2 separate regions of the Homo sapiens genome follow, and region 1 is linked to region 2. The links come from fine-mapping of genetic effects on gene expression. A gene starts in region 2. The other region holds a variant in brackets. All regions are shown on one strand. Distances are between the middles of the regions. Region 1 overlaps AFF3 (ALF transcription elongation factor 3). Region 2 holds the start of MITD1 (microtubule interacting and trafficking domain containing 1).

The links. PIP is the estimated chance that this variant, and not a neighbour inherited with it, causes the effect. A credible set is the group of variants that fine-mapping cannot tell apart.
Region 1: its variant is the best candidate, but not a certain one, in a credible set for the expression of MITD1 in whole blood (TOPMed, PIP 0.66).

What each region holds. Positions count from the first base shown.
Region 1 is chr2:99,796,763-99,799,262 of GRCh38, forward strand. The region is part of intron 8 of AFF3 (ALF transcription elongation factor 3); the gene reads right to left. Among named protein-coding and RNA genes, the nearest start is that of REV1, 310 kb to the left of the region's middle. The variant C/T (reference allele first, on the strand shown) is at 1,179.
Region 2 is chr2:99,179,619-99,182,595 of GRCh38, forward strand. MITD1 (microtubule interacting and trafficking domain containing 1) reads right to left here and starts at 1,440. Exons shown (of 7, transcript NM_138798.3): 1 at 1,213-1,440. The coding sequence starts at 1,363. It overlaps MRPL30 (mitochondrial ribosomal protein L30), which reads left to right and starts at 1,566. Exons shown (of 6, transcript NM_145212.4): 1 at 1,566-1,631. RefSeq lists enhancers at 1,108-1,247, 1,258-1,487, 1,508-1,557 and a silencer at 1,775-1,947.

The sequences.
Region 1 (2,500 bases), 620 kb after region 2:
ATCTGAAAGGATTACAGAAAAAAATACCAGGTGCTTACAAGGCCAGGAACAGAAATTGTGCTCACCAGCCAGACTGTAAAACCTTATAATTAACAGGGCATTGGATAGAGCACTCAAAAGAATCTTGCCTCAGAACTAGGCAATAATTAGCCATAGACTAAATGATGCTCTTTCTCACCTGACAAACTGTGGAGACAAAACCCAAAACAATCACACTATTTCCAAGTAACTTAACTACATCCCAGAACAAAGCACAGGGAGATCTGTAGAAACACAAAAAAGCAAAACTCTGTCTGGGTCCAACCAAAGATTACCAGATAGACAGATCACCATACGTGCAAAGAAGCAAGAAAGTGCAACCCATAGTGAGAAAAAAATAAGACAACCCAGAAAGGCCACAGGTGTCAGACTTATTGGACAAAGATATTAAACAGTTACTATTTGTAATATGTATGTCCAAAAAGTTAAGTAGAGACATAGAAGATATACCAAAGACCCAAACTGAGTTTTCATCTAGAGATGAAAACTATATGAAATGCAAATATACATTGAATGCAATTAATGGTAGAATAGAGATTGTAAAAGAAAACATTAGTGAGCTTGAAGACATAACAACAGAAACTACACAAAATGAAATACAGAGAGAAAAAAGAGCATAAGTAAACTGCAGAATGACTTCATGTGTGATCTAATGTACATAAAATTGGAGTCCCTACAGGAGAAAGGGGAGGGTAGAAAATATATTTAAATAAATAATGAAGGAACAAAACTGTAACATTTGATAAAAAACATAAATCTACAGATGTAAGAGACTCAGTTATGATAGGTACAGTAAACATGAAGAAAGCTACAAAAGGACAAAGTATAATCAAATTGCTCAAAACCAGTGGTAAAAGAGAAACATTTAAAAGCAGCCAGAGAAAGACGAAACAGAGATTAGGATTACAACAGATTTACTGTTGGAAACAATGCAAGTAAGAAGACAGTGGAACAACATCTCCAAAACATGGAAAGAAAATAAATAACTCCAAAATATATATATGACAAAAATATTTGTCAAAAACTAAGGTAAAATACAGACATTTTCAGATATGCAACAGCTGGAAAAGTTCATAACCAGCAGATCCGCACTATGGAAAATGTTAAAGGAAGCCCTTGAGGCAGAAGGAAAGTGCTAA[C/T]AGACGGAAATATAAATATACCCAAAGCAATAAAGAGAACTGAAAAATGGTAAGTCTATTAAACATATTTTATAATTTGAATATGTTTAAAATATAATTGATTAGTTAAGAAAAAAATTATATTTTTGGAGTTGATAACATATACAAGTAAAATGTTTGACAACAATAGGAAAAAGGTGGCTGGGGAAGGAGTAATGAAGAATTGCAAGGTTCTTACACTGAACATGAAGTGGTAAAATATTACTTGACAGTAAGCTAAAGATGTCTACTATAATTCCTAAAGCAACCACTAAAATAACAAAGCAAAGAGTAATAGCTAATAAGACAACAAATGAGATTAAATGAAAACAAAAAAATAACTCAATGCAAAAGAAGACAGGACAAGAGGAAAGGGCAATAATTATTCAATTACATTAAATAATTGCATTCAATGCTAACTGCATTGAATTACATTGAATGTAATTATTGATACGGTTAGGATTGTCTATTTTCCATCCTGTTTTTATTTATCCAATCAGATAAATAATAAATAATATATGTAAACACTATAAAATCCCAGTTAAAAGACAGAAATGAGCAGACTGCATTAAAAGATCAAGACCCAATTATATGCTATTTATAAGAAATATACTGTAAGTATAAGAAAAACCAAATAGATTAAAATAAAATGATAGAAATATATATTACATGCTAACATTAATCAAAAGAAAGCTGAATTGGCTATATTAATATTAAGGTAGATCTTAACGCAGCCAGGGATAAAGAAGTTTATATCACATTGTCTAACGGACCAATCAATATGACGTAAAAATCTAAATGCTTATGTGCCTAACAGCAGAGCTTCAAAATACACGAAGCAAAAGTGAATACAACTTCAAGGAGAAATAGACAGTCCCTTAATTATAGTCAGAGATTTCAGTATCCTGCCCTAGTAATTGATAGAATACATAGGAAGAAAATTAGTCAGACTTTTCTGACTAATGTAGCCTTGAACAACACTATGACACCATGGTCTAGGTAGAAAATGTAATGAAATCTACAGAAAAAGCTACTAAAATTAATAAGTTAGTTTCACAAAGTTGCAGGATACAAGATCAGTAAACAAATATAAATTACATATCTATATGCCAGCAACTAGTAAATATAACCTGAAATTTAAAGATAAATGCCATGTATACTAGTATCAAAAATAAAACATACTTAGGAATAAATCTGACAAAAGATGTTCAAGTCCTGTATATTAAAAACTATAAAACACTGCAGAGAGAAATTAAAGAGATCTAAATCTCTAATGGTAGAACAGAGATTATAAAAGAAGCACT
Region 2 (2,977 bases):
GTGGCGCGATCTCGGCTCACTGCAACCTCCGCCTCCCGGATTCAAGCAATTCTCCTGCCTCAGCCTCCCAAGTGGCTGGGACTACAGGTGCGTGCCACCATGCCCGGCTAATTTTTGTATTTTCAGTAGAGACGGGGTTTCACCATGTTGGCCAGGATGGTCTCGATCTCTTGACCTCATGATCCACCTGCCTCGGCCTCCCAAAAAAGTGCTGGGATTACAGGAGTGAGCCACCGCGCCCGGCCGGTAGAGTTTGTAGTTCTGACCAAAGCACCAAACCATAAAGGGCTCCCCTCTGCTGCCCCAAAGCTTCTGTAACACTTTAATTATAAGAAGCTTAAACTAGAAAGAACAGAGGGAGCTTAGTCCAGACCGGGAGTGTCGGGGGTTGGGGAGCAGGAGCTGATCTTATCAATTTAATACATAAATATTGAGTGTCTACTGTGAGCCAGGGTTGTGCTGGGTGTTAAGGAATATTTGGGTATTTCTCAACATTGAATAATACGAAAAGTCTCACTTGTCTCCTCCACAACCCTGCGCATTTCTCACACCGAACCTCATCCGTTTAAGAAAAACTTTTCTTCTTCTACCGCTACATAATTTTACTTTGGCTTGCTTTAAATGCAAATGTTTAAACAGAAAATTAAAAATAATCGTATAATAAACACCCTTATTACCCATCACCGAAATTTTTAAAATTAGCATTTTTGCTCAAATAGAGCTTCGATTTTTAAGAAATTTTTGCTTAAGGAAAATTAACTAAAGACATCATAGCATCTCTTTCTAAAACACTTTGGTCTGCATCTCTAAAAATTAAGGAAAGTTTTGGAAAAAAAATCATATTGCCTAAGAAAATAATTTTAATGCCCCCCAATCTATATTCAAACTTTTCTAATAGATCCAAAAATGTCTTTTAAAGTTCGTACAAACCCAGGTCCTATCAAAGCTTATATATTACATTGCGTTATATCTTATATCTCTTAAGTCTTTTAAAATCTAGACTAGTAGCCTCCCCACCTTTTCTAGGTAACATCAATCTATTAAAGATCTAAAAGAAAGCGGCCCAGTTGTCCTATAGAATATCCCACCTTCTGTATTTAACTGCTTCTTCGTGGTGTGGAAAAATCATTTTTAACTCTTTCACTTCACCCCAGACACAGCAGGAACCAGCTCCTTTTCCTCAGGTCCTCCCCGCCTTGGCTCATTGCTCACCTTTCAGAACCTGCAGGAGCAGATCAATCCCCTCTTGGTAACACACCAGAGCCTGCGGATACCGCGACTCCGAATCTAGTTCTACTGCCCGCTTTAGCACAGTGGCTGCAGCTGTGCTCTGCGGGTCCTGCCTCAGCCCGGACTTCGCCATAATTCTGGAAGTTCTCCTCCGCCTCAACCCAGGATGAAGTTGAGCGGGTCTGCTGCGCTTCCGGGAAGTGGTCATGTGATACCCAGGCGCCTGCGCTCTCTTTCTAGGGACTTTCCTGAGTGGGAGGGATTTCGCCGGAACAAAAATGCCTCAGTTTGGAGGTCGCGCTCACTGCGACGGCAGGCTTTGAGTGTAGCACTTGGTAGTTCTTCCTCTGCTCTGCTTCCCTTCGGAGGAAAATTTCAGGCTGAAGGTTTAGCGGGTGCCGGTGAGTGGGGAATGAGTGGCGGAGAGTGCGGCATTCTTCGCAAGGTGTATCCGGGAACCCTCTGCAGATCCTAATTGATTTTCCCTATTGCGTACTGAATTGGCCGGTTACGGCAACCTAAATGGGTCTGCCCCTGATCCCGTCACATTGGCTCCCGTAAGGCCATTGGCCTGCAGGATCCCCCCGTTTCCCAATTTGCAGGATCCAGGGCCACGCGGCTTTTTGTGCCCAGACTCTTGGAGCTCAAGAACGGAGCCGCCGAGGCTGGACAGCTTGGGAAAGGGAACCCAAGCAGCATTTTCTGTGCTGCTGCTTTATTCATAACTTAGGGTTGCCACTGGGTATTAAGGTTGCTTTTTTTTTTTTTTAATGAAGACAGAAAATTGCCTTTATCTTTGTATTGCTTCATTTTATAATGCAAACATCCAAGAGTTGGCAGTTAGAATATTTGCCATTTTATTAAAACTGTGATTTGTTACCATTTTGATCGAGACCTACCAAAAGCTGTTTGTTCTGCCCTTTTTGCCAAGAGGCAGTAATGAGGGCTGCCTACTGCTTGTTAGGCACTAGGAGTTCAGAGAAGAGACACGCTTCCAGCTTTCAGAGATCTCTGGTATCTCTGCAAGAGTGATTCCATGTTTTGCATTTCAGAAGTGTTTTTCCCCCTTTAATAATTGTATACATTGTCGGTTTAGAAAAAGAAATCGATTTTTAACATTCCTGTTGCATGCATGCTCATTGTAAAAAGACAAAAGAACTATCGGTCGCTGGGGGGGAGAAGGGGGAGGAAAAACGCCTTTTTTCATACCCCCAGGGGTATGTTAACGTTTTTCTGACAACCTTCCAGAGTTTTTCTGTGATTACACACGTTCACAGACATTTAAAAAAATAGAAATGGGATCATACTTCTCCTGTGATGCCTGATATTTTCCTGTTTTACAGAAGACAGCGTAATTGTTTCAGGGTCCAGGAGTTACGTGCCTAATTATTAACAGTAACTTTTACTTTATTAAAACGTATTCCTTGCCGGGCGTGGTGGCTCACGCCTGTAATCTCAGCACTTTCGGAGGCCGAGGCGGGAGGATCACGAGGTCAGGAGATCGAGACCATCCTGGCTAACACGGTGAAACCCCGTCTCTACTAAAAATACAAAAAATTAGCCGGGCGTCCGGGCGGGCGCCTGTAGTCCCAGCTACTGGGGAGGCCGAGGCAGGAGAATGGCGTGAACCCGGGAGGCGGAGCTTGCAGTGAACCCAGATCGTGCCACTGCACTCCAGCCTGGGCGACAGAGCGAGACTCCGTCTCAAAAAAATAAATAAGATAAAATAAACGTATTCTTTGAGTCA